3 linked regions of the Homo sapiens genome follow. The protein of the gene in region 1 purifies or fractionates together with the protein of each later gene. This does not show direct contact. Each region holds a gene or a part of one and is shown in the gene's direction. Other genes may lie near its edges. The genes, in order: AGAP3, TANC1 and NBEA.

Region 1 (3,649 bases):
TGGCTCTCAGGCCCCAGGGCCTGCTGTCTCTCCACTCCCAATGTGCGACACACAGTGCCCATCCAAACCCTAATCCTCCAGCCGGGCTTGGCTGGATGTTCCAGGAGTCTTGGGCCAGACAAAGGTGGGTGAACCCCCGTGTGGGTTGTCACGAGAGCGCCCGCCCCTCCGCGTCACTCCATGCGCCTCTTTCCGAGAGCAGGGCTTGGCTCTCAGCCTGGGCCCGAGTGCGGCCAGCCAGGCCAGATCTCCGGACCCTGCCCGGACAGAGCTGGCACTTCCAAGCCCTGCTCACTCATCCTCGCCTCTGCCTGCCCAGCTCACTTCTCCCTCCCGGCTGCCTGCCTCTGTCCCGAGCCCGCCACCTGCCCTCGCGGCCATCCATGCTAACAGAGACTCTGTGCTGACGGTCCGCCACACATTGCAGCTGCCCGGCCCTGACCCTGCCTAAATGTGCAGCTTCTCCTTTCTATCCATGGCCATTGAGACATTAGAGCGTGGGGGGGGCCGCCTGCTCGAGCCCACACCTGCTGCTGCTGCTGCTGCGGGACCCTTAGGTGCCTCTGTCCACGGTGCCTACTGCCAGGGCCTGGGCACCCTGCTCCCTGGCATCGTGCCTCAGTCATCCGCTGCCTCAGTTCCATTCTTAATCTCCCCTTCCCCTCGTTGGCAAGCTCTGTAGCAACCCCAGGGCACCCCCTGCCTTTCCCTGCCCTGCTACCCTCTCCTCCGCCCACGCCCAGTCCCCGGCCTCCTCCCTTGCGCCCCGTGCTTCCTGCCATCCTGTGCTCTCTGCTGCCTGCCTCGACTCTGCTGCCCTCCCTCCTGGCTGCTCACGGCACGGCCTTCCCTCTGGCGCTTCCATTCTCTCCATCCTCACAGCGGCGACCTTATATTTTCCTTCCATTGTTTCTGTGGTGACCTCACTTGCACCATTGTCCCTGAGACGGCCTCAAGACGCGTCCGTCTCTGTGGGTGTATCTCGGGACCTCCCCTCTCATCATTGCTGTTGGGGCCTCCCCTCTTCTCCCTCATCGTCCTCCCCAGCAGCGACATGCTTGCTCGAGGGCGAGCCCCTGTGTCCTGCCTGCTCTGTGGCTAGTGACCCCCTACTGGACATGGTTGTGCTGTCCCCAGTCTCTCCTGTGACTTCATGTGCTCATTTCGTTGCTGCTCTTGCCCCAGTTCCTGTCCGCATGGGGAGGTGCCCCTCTGGGCTCCCAGGGGTCCTCTGGTGGTCGGGGCCTCTTGGCTCACAATCTGGCTGGGGTGGGCTGCACCCCACTCCCCCCAAACCGGCTCTTCTGTCTGGGGACCCGGTGGCAGCAGTCCCATCCACCTTCCTCCTCCCTGGGCCAAAGGGGCAGAGGGCTGTGGCGGTCTGGGCCGTGGAGCCCAGGAGGGGATGGGGCGGTGCCGCCTGTGGAGCTGCTGGGTGGCACTTTGCTCTCCGGCGGCTCTTTTGCCCGGTTCTCCTTGTTCCCTCTGGCCTTGCTTTCTCCCACGCTGCAGTTGTGGCCCTGTGTCCCCTCGCTGTGCCCTTGGCTCCTGGCAGCCTGGGAGAACGGGAGGGATGGGGCCTGGGCTGCCGAGTGGCGAACATACCATTCCGTGCTGAGGTGGACGCTTGGCCTGTGTCTGCCCAGCAGGTGCCGCTGCCGCCCGCCGCCGCCGCCGCCTCCTCCTCCTCCTGGTCCTCCTCCTTCTCCTCCTCCTCCTTGTCCTTCTCCTCTTCCTCGTCCTTCTCCTCCTCCTCCTCCTCCTCTTCATCCCGCTGCCGCCGCTCCCCAGGCGCCTGGGTCTCTGCCCTCACCGGTGCTGACCGACTTGTGCGGGGCTTGAGTATAACTTGCCAAAATCTTTATTCTTTCGATATTTGCAGATATGTGCCACTGTTTCCAACTTTTCATCAACAAAAAGGCCTTTCCAACTCCTTCCAAATTAGAAGACCAGTTGGTGACACACAGCACCTCTGGACATGCCCCCTGTGCGGGGCCGGAGGCGGGCCGGGCCCTGGGACTGCTCTCAGATGAGAAGCGGCCGCCGAGCTCCCCACTCCAGAGACCCACGGGAACCTTTGTAACTAACCCCACCCCCAGGGAAGGCTAGGAGCGCCGGAGCCCGCGCTGGGGGCTGCCGGGGACCAGGCCCGGCCGGACGCTGCAGGCTCGCTGCATGGAGAAGAAGGCAGCTCGGCCCCACGCCCGGCGCTGGCCAGCGCGACGAGGCCCAGAGGGGCGGGGGAGTCCAAGCCCGCCCGGCCCGGCTGCTCCTGGGGGGCGCTTTCCTGCCCCTCCCCTCCTCTGCTCCTTCCTGCATGGACCTCTGCCGTTCCTGCTCCTGCTCCGGAAGCCGCCGCCGCCGCCGCGCTTGCCTTGCCCCCTCTTTTTGGCCTCCCCCTATTTCCTAGGATCCGCATTCGGGTGGACTCTGCCCCAGGAGCTTGACAGGGTGCAGGGCCTCTTCTGGCCTCTCTCCTCTCTCTGTCCATCCACTGTGCCCCTTGGGCCACGCCGACGCGCTCGGTGCCACGTGCCGTGTGGTGTCTGTGCCGCAGACGGGCCATCTGCCCGCTCACTTGTGGACTTTGCGCTCCCGGTTGTCGCGCCCTGTGCTCCCGACCAGCAGCCCCACCGTCCACCTCCTCGCCCCCGCTTCTCTTACGCCCCCGCCCCGGGCGTGCTCCTCGCGCCCTCGGCCTCTCTGTCCTTGCTCTTTTGTAAGGGGCGGGCCCGGCTCAGTGACCTGTGCTGCTCTGTATGGTGCCGTGTGTAAGAATAAACCCGTTGGAATACTCGTGGTCTCAGTTCCTTCCCGTCCCGCCGCCCCGGCCCGACCCACTGCTAGGGCTGCCCAGGAGGAGGGAGGCAGGAGGGAGGCCGGGAAGTCCAGGTGGGCAGCTCTCGGCAGACCCTGGGCCTCTTTAACACGCCTCTTGTTTTCTCTTCCAGTCTCGGAAGGGTGCTGACCTGGACCGGGAGAAGAAGGCTGCCGAGTGCAAGGTGGACAGCATCGGGAGCGGCCGCGCCATCCCCATCAAGCAGGTCAGCGCCTCCCTTCCCGTGTGCTCCAGGGCTCAGAATGAGGCCCAGGAATGTGGCGCTTCCCAGGGCCTCTTCTCAGGCCTCTGTGATGGGGGAGATGGCATCAGAGGCCAGCACCACCCTCCTAGGCGGAGTCCTTAACAAGGGACTGGCTCTCCAGTGAGAAGCCACCTTCTCTGCGCCGCCACCTTCAGGCCACGAGCTCTGCCTGTACCTTCTGATCACCACCGGAGGGCAGCAGAGAGCTACCTGCCGTGTTCAGCCAGGCGCTCAGCCTGTCCCGCTGGTTCTGGAGTTGGGTCTGGAGAGGGTTGAGTGGCTCTCTAAGGAAAATGAGCAACCCGAGAAGCCTGCGTGGAAGGGGATACTGAGGGCTAGTCCAGCGCTAGGTCTGTTGGCATGGTTTTGTTAATAAGGGCCTCTGTTCGTCTTTAAAGAAAAAAGTAGACTACCTCCTCACCTCTCCCACCTCCTTTCTAGTCAGTCCTGGGGGCCCTGGGCCTGCCTTCTTCCACACCTCCGGTCTTGGATTCCTGCAGTGGACACGGCATTGCCCCACGGAGGGCGTCTCTTTGATGTGTTGAGCCAGAGCAGCTGGGGTGGAT
Region 2 (3,649 bases), on another chromosome or scaffold:
AACTAGATTATGACCATGTTAATCCTTTTTACTGTTAGGCAGCTGTATTTGGTATGTTGTAGATTTTTTCCTTCTCATTTTTTAAAATAGTAACAAATAAATAGGCAATATAGCATGACCCAGCAGGGTTCCTGGCTTGGAATCAGCTTGAAATTGAGTTGAGTGTATTGTTGTGGCTTTGAAGTGCTTTTAATATGGATTGGTAGGCAATTATGTCAGAAATAGGAAGCCATTTTCAACAGGCTTCATACCTGCTGTGCAATGGGACTGACTGAGCAAATGGATTTTTTTAGCTTTGAAAATGATGTGTGGTGCTGTTCTGATTTTTAAAGCCCATGTTTTAATTCCTCTTAGAAGAAAAATTATTATTCTGCAGCAAGCTCTCTAGGTTTATCTACAAGATGCTACTTGTCCTAGGAATAGGATCAGTTTTTCATCTGATTTCTATTACACTTAGCATTCAAATAGATTTGAGATCATTCTTGAAATAATTTTCAAAAATACATACCAGAAGGTAATCTGATTCATTAAGTTTGGTAATTATCAATCTAGCAGTTTACAGACACCTTATTGTAAAACCAGCTTCTTTCTCACTGTGTAACCACAGGATGCGGGTGCATGTGAGGACAGTGAAGCCCTCATGTGCCAGCCCAGTTAGTGAACTAGCTCCCACCTTGACACTTGTTTGGATGCTTTCAATGTTCTGTCGTGGGTTTGCAGGGGGGAGTAAACTCCCCACGGTGTTCCAGGTGTGGGAGTTATTCATTTTAGAACCTCTGAAAAAGGACAAATGTTTGTGATTTTTGAATCCTAGAAAGGGAAAATGAAAGAGGCAGCCCAGAGGTACCAGTATGCCTTAAGAAAGTTTCCTCGAGAAGGATTCGGAGAGGACATGAGACCCTTCAATGAATTAAGGGTTTCCCTCTATCTCAATTTGTCGCGATGCCGAAGAAAAACAAATGTAAGCTGTGCCCCTTTATTCCAACCCAGTCTTCCAGCAACAGAGCCCTTCTCCAGCAGTGAAGGCCAGCCCTTCTCCAGACCAGATCCTGGGCCCTCCTGTCCAATTTGCTTGCACATTTACATGAACCTGGCATGTGGGAAACAGCTCCTATCCGTGACTATCGTTTGGTCACGGCTGCTACGCTCCTCGCATGATGTTGAAGGAATGCACTTGGGTTTCGTTTCCTTGGCCTCAGTAATGAGAAGCAAATGCAGTCTGCTCCTCTGCAGCTTCCCAACACTGTTGCTGCTGGCACTGCCGTCCCCGGATTCAGGAGAGTCCAACCCAAGCCTATTGTGGTGGGCCTGCCTTCTGTGTTAGGTTTGCTCAGAGGGTCTGCCAGTAACTAATTTGTAACCGGTCGTGGGGAACTCATAGTCGATTTGTAACTAGTAGATCTGTTTCAGTAGTACTTCCTACCTTTTTTTTAACTGTGTCCTCCTGCCCCAGTCTGTTGAGCTGCTTGCTTCTGTGCCCTGCTGCCGGAATAGATGCAGTGTCTGCGCTCCTCTCTGAGGCTGCCCCTCCACCGGGCTGTGAGGTTCCACCATCTGGCCTTCTTGGGGCACTGTTACTACCACTGTTTTCATAGTGGATTCTTCTCCTAATGATATTAATCAACCATCATTATCTCCTCACTTTAAAACAAGATAGAAAACGGAACTTTCCCTTCCTCCCTCTCTGGCTGTGCCTCAGAGCGCTGCTACCCTTTAGAACAAAACTAGACGGGCTTCCCACAATCGTGTGTCCAGGCTGCTTCTGACTCCTGTATTTCTTGTCGACACCAGGACTTTGGCATGGCAGAGGAATTTGCTTCCAAGGCTCTCGAATTGAAGCCCAAGTCCTATGAAGCCTTTTATGCCAGAGCAAGAGCGAAGAGAAATAGCAGGTACCGTCTGTGGTTATCTTTGTGTCTAGAGCTTTTTTTCTTGTGGGATCAAACCTGCCTGTTGAATTTGGGGAGGTTTTGCTGCAGAAGTGTTGCTCAGGTGCCTCTCATCCTTTTTAGTAGTGAATTAGTATTACTACCTGCTTCCAAGAGGCATAGTAGTGGACATTATCAGTGATGAGTAAACTTCTATTTTCTCCTGACGTCTCAATAATCATTCCTTCCCACCCCTCCCCCCACGTGAAACTTACTGCAACATGAACTTCCTACCTAGTTTAGTCCATATTTCAAGGAAACTGCCAACTAGGGACATTAGGAAGTTCAGAGGTGGGGAAGAGTGATATAAGCCTGTTGACTGAGAGATGGGCACAGTGTTACCATGGGATGGTAACAATATTAAAAAGATTCTGGCGCCCACTGATTCATGCTTCTCCCTATTCCCAGTCCAGTGGTCTTTATGGAGAGCAGGGCTGTAGAGTCCCACCTACCTAGGTTAGAATTCAGCACTGCCACTTAGCTGAGTTACTCTGGGCTGGTTAAGTGGGTCCTGGCCACCACCGTAAGTGTTCAAAACTCACTTGCTACCTTCTCTTTCCTTTGAGCACAGCTCTTTTATGAACAGTTACACTCTGAGCATGTTCGTGTGTGGTTTGTAATGTTACCTTACATTTTCCTACAAAGGCAATTCGTGGCAGCTCTGGCTGACCTGCAAGAGGCTGTGAAACTCTGTCCCACCAATCAGGAAGTCAAGAGGCTTCTGGCCCGCGTAGAAGAGGAGTGCAAACAACTCCAGAGGAGTCAACAGCAAAAACAGCAGGGCCCGCTACCAGCTCCACTCAACGACTCCGAGAACGAAGAGGACACCCCAACCCCTGGCTTAAGTGACCACTTTCACTCTGAGGAGACTGAAGAGGAAGAAACTTCTCCCCAGGAAGAATCTGTTTCCCCAACTCCCAGGTCCCAGCCATCCTCATCTGTCCCTTCCTCATACATCCGAAACCTTCAAGAAGGGTTACAGTCCAAAGGAAGGCCGGTATCGCCACAGAGCAGGGCAGGAATCGGCAAGTCCCTGAGAGAGCCTGTGGCCCAGCCAGGGCTGCTCCTGCAGCCCTCCAAGCAGGCCCAGATCGTGAAAACCAGCCAGCACCTGGGCTCTGGCCAGTCGGCAGTGAGAAATGGCAGTATGAAAGTTCAGATCTCTTCTCAGAACCCTCCTCCAAGTCCCATGCCAGGGAGAATCGCTGCCACTCCTGCTGGGAGCAGAACCCAGCATTTAGAGGGAACAGGTACTTTCACTACAAGAGCTGGTTGTGGCCACTTTGGGGATCGGCTGGGCCCCAGCCAGAATGTCCGCCTGCAGTGTGGTGAGAATGGCCCTGCACACCCTTTACCAAGTAAGACGAAAACCACAGAGAGGCTTCTGTCTCATTCCTCCGTGGCTGTGGACGCAGCCCCTCCAAACCAAGGTGGGCTGGCGACCTGCAGCGACGTGCGACACCCAGCTTCCCTCACCAGCTCAGGCTCTTCTGGTTCTCCATCCAGCAGCATAAAGATGTCAAGTTCAACCAGTAGTTTGACTTCGAGCAGCAGTTTTTCAGATGGCTTCAAGGTCCAAGGACCAGATACTAGAATTAAAGACAAGGTTGTAACCCACGTTCAGAGCGGTACAGCTGAGCACAGACCCCGCAACACGCCGTTCATGGGCATCATGGATAAGACTGCGAGGTTCCAACAGCAGAGCAATCCTCCAAGCCGCA
Region 3 (3,649 bases), on another chromosome or scaffold:
AATAGTACTTTGGTTATTGTATATTATTAGCTGCTTATTCTCTGTTTAAGCTTACATAAATGTGTGGAAGTTAACTGGCATATTTGGTTTGGGTAACATTGAAATACTTAGCCTAAAAGAAAATAGCTTTTAATATTGCTGAGTTATCTGTGTGATTTTGGCAATCCTTATAATAAATCATATATAGCTGTATTTGTTGATTATTTCCAGTTACTTAATGAAACTAAGCACTTGCTTTAGGACTAACAAATGCCAGCTTTGAAGTCTTAAACTTTCTGGCATTATTTTTTCTATTTCCACAATTTAATTTGTATTATTTAGTTTTTTCTTTTTGATATGTACAAAATGCCTTAATGTTTTCTTTACTTATTCCTAAGGTCACTTATGAAGCTCATAAGGAATACCTAGCCAAAATGTATGAGGAATATCAAAGACAAGAGGAGGAAAACATTAAAAAGGGAAAGAAAGGGAATGTGAGCACCATCTCTGGTCTTTCATCACAGACAACAGGAGCAAAAGGTGGAATGGAAATTCGAGAGATAGAAGATCTTTCACAAAGCCAGAGCCCAGAAAGTGAGACCGATTACCCTGTCAGCACAGATACTCGAGACTTACTCATGTCAACAAAAGTGTCAGATGATATTCTTGGAAATTCAGATAGACCAGGAAGTGGTGTACATGTGGAAGTACATGATCTTTTAGTAGATATAAAAGCAGAGAAAGTGGAAGCAACAGAAGTAAAGCTCGATGATATGGATTTATCACCGGAGACTTTAGTAGGTGGAGAGAATGGTGCCCTTGTGGAGGTTGAATCTCTGTTGGATAATGTATATAGTGCTGCTGTTGAGAAACTCCAGAACAATGTACATGGAAGTGTTGGTATCATTAAAAAAAATGAAGAAAAGGATAATGGTCCATTGATAACATTAGCAGATGAGAAAGAAGACCTTCCCAATAGTAGTACATCATTTCTCTTTGATAAAATACCCAAACAGGAGGAAAAACTACTTCCTGAACTTTCTAGCAATCACATTATTCCAAATATTCAGGACACACAAGTACATCTTGGTGTTAGTGATGATCTTGGATTGCTTGCTCACATGACCGGTAGCGTAGACTTAACTTGTACATCCAGTATAATAGAAGAAAAAGAATTCAAAATCCATACAACTTCAGATGGAATGAGCAGTATTTCTGAAAGAGACTTAGCGTCATCAACTAAGGGGCTGGAGTATGCTGAAATGACTGCTACAACTCTGGAAACTGAGTCTTCTAGTAGCAAAATTGTACCAAATATTGATGCAGGAAGTATAATTTCAGATACTGAAAGGTCTGACGATGGCAAAGAATCAGGAAAAGAAATCCGAAAAATCCAAACAACTACTACGACACAAGTAAGCTACCTTATATGAGTTCTAGAAATAAATAAAAATGCATTGAAGAGTTGTTAGCACCAAAACAGAGTAATTTCTTATCAGTTACTTCATGTTTATATTGAATTATAGTATAATAGTAATTTATGGAACTAAATAGTGCGGTATAATTTCATGTATGTAAGAAACTAAAAATATCTCAATTATATTTCCAACTCTGCCACATTCTTCTGTGTAACTTTGCTCAACCTCTCTGGGCCTAAGTTTCCTTATCTAGTACAAGAGGTTGTACTAAAGGATGACCTTTAAGGTCTCTGCCAGTTCTAACATTTTATAACTCTGTGACTACATTTACACATTTTGTACTCAAGATCTTCATTCTGAATACTTGATTAATTTTAACCTTTTAAGCTTCAGGCCCAACCCTGTTCTGTGGATTATAGAAAAGAGGACTTGGAGCCCAGATTGAACTGATAAATGAAGGGGAAGGGAAAAGGGAACTGTTATTTATCCAGTGCCTACTATGTTCCGGGCACTGTGCTATATGTTTTCAGATTTAATCCTCACAACAACCCTGTGAGGTAGGTAATATGGCTGAGAAAAATTAGAATTGTTAGCAGTGAGAATTTTCTGTTCAACCACATGAATAGAAATTTGTTATAAGACAATTAAAGACTCTTAGGTCTGGTTGTTAGGAAATGTTAGTGCTTCAGTTTTGACCTCACTGGAATAAAGCTAAAAACAGATGATGTTTTCTGATATGGATTTTAATTGTTGAGCTCTGAGTTATGACTGTTTCTTTATTTTCTAGGATAAATAATACCTTATGGTTAAGAGTTGAAGAAATAAGAATACATTTACCGTTAATGACTTGGGTTTTGTTATCCTCTGGGTGCCCCACTTGCCTTTTAATGTCATTGAAAATACATTGAATGTGTTTCCATTAGGTTTATACTATGAAGAGTAAACCATGCCTGTCTTGTGTCTTTGTACTCCAGTAAGAATCCTTCATAATATATCGTGTGTGGGGAAAGTATTTTTATTTTTTCTCTAACTGCCAATTTCCATTTTTGTGGCAGTTGCATTGTAGTGATAATTGGCAGGAGATGAGCATATTGAATTAGATACAGATGTAAAATAAAGGAAAACATCGTGCGTTGTTTATTGAACAATAGGCTTGCCTGTTGAACACTAGGCTTGCCTGTTTTTCATTTGGAGTTTATAGACATTTTTCTGGTTTGTTTTCTAACTTATCAAATGCATTTGTGTTTTTGAATTGAAGTACTGTAAGTGAAACAGACTTCAAAGTTAACTTGAAACTGTCAAGTAATATTTTTTCTAATCTTGTGCTTTAGTTACAATTAGTTGATGACATATATCCAGTATACTTCACTGTGTATATGCTCACTTCATTAAGGAAGTAATGTGGTCTAATTTAAAGACTCTTAATGGGGTAAAGGGGTCTGGTTTTCAGTGTGAACTTTGGTGTTAACTTTAGGTATTTGATTATCTTGCCTAGTTTCTGCAATAGTAAAATAAAAGCAATAATGGAGACTTCAGCCCAAAAAGTTTCCTGTGCAAGGAATTACCAGGTGAATAATATATGTGAAATATATTAAACTGCTAAAGTCATATGCTAAAGCATTAAAGCATTATTCACTTTACTATACTCACAGTTTCATTTTAAAATGAGGCATTTCTTTTGTATTCCACAAAAGTTCATCTTTTCCTTCTTTAGGCTGTGCAGGGTCGGTCTATCACCCAACAAGACCGAGATCTCCGAGTTGATTTAGGATTTCGAGGAATGCCAATGACTGAGGAACAGCGACGCCAGTTTAGCCCAGGTCCACGGACTACAATGTTTCGTATTCCTGAGTTTAAATGGTCTCCAATGCACCAGCGGCTTCTCACTGATTTACTATTTGCATTAGAAACTGATGTACATGTTTGGAGGAGGTAGAAATATTTCTTTTTTATAAATTAAAAGCAAATATTTAAAATATGCCATTGCCTATTCTATTTGGTTTTGACAAAACCAAAAATCTGCCTTGATTAAAGGAATTTCCACATTTTTCTTGTATCTTGTTTAAATTAATACCATGTACTAAATTTATTAGTGATAATAATATATACTGTTTAAGTTTAAAATCACCCTGTGACATGTGTATTCAGAGCCTGTAGTATTTAAGCAGTTAGTGGATATCAGTTCAAAGATGATAACTTAGACAACAAATCTACATAAAGTAAACCATGGCCTTTCTAAATTTTCAATTTAA

Evidence for each region.
Region 2: the proteins of AGAP3 (region 1) and TANC1 purify together in Homo sapiens (affinity purification with mass spectrometry; one large-scale study listed by BioGRID and IntAct). This does not show direct contact.
Region 3: the proteins of AGAP3 (region 1) and NBEA purify together in Homo sapiens (affinity purification with mass spectrometry; one large-scale study listed by BioGRID and IntAct). This does not show direct contact.

The regions. Positions count from the first base shown.
Region 1 is NC_000007.14:151,120,843-151,124,491, forward strand, and holds part of AGAP3 (arf-GAP with GTPase, ANK repeat and PH domain-containing protein 3), read left to right. Parts: intron 1-1,882; coding exon of another isoform or gene 1,883-2,109; exon of another isoform or gene 2,110-2,796; intron 2,797-2,951; coding exon 2,952-3,044; intron 3,045-3,649. UniProt on the Homo sapiens protein: GTPase-activating protein for the ADP ribosylation factor family. GTPase which may be involved in the degradation of expanded polyglutamine proteins through the ubiquitin-proteasome pathway.
Region 2 is NC_000002.12:159,227,005-159,230,653, forward strand, and holds part of TANC1 (protein TANC1), read left to right. Parts: intron 1-814; coding exon 815-961; intron 962-1,791; coding exon 1,792-1,892; coding exon of another isoform or gene 1,893-1,897; intron 1,898-2,573; coding exon 2,574-3,649. UniProt on the Homo sapiens protein: May be a scaffold component in the postsynaptic density.
Region 3 is NC_000013.11:35,158,639-35,162,287, forward strand, and holds part of NBEA (neurobeachin), read left to right. Parts: intron 1-377; coding exon 378-1,394; intron 1,395-3,111; coding exon 3,112-3,329; intron 3,330-3,649. UniProt on the Homo sapiens protein: Binds to type II regulatory subunits of protein kinase A and anchors/targets them to the membrane. May anchor the kinase to cytoskeletal and/or organelle-associated proteins.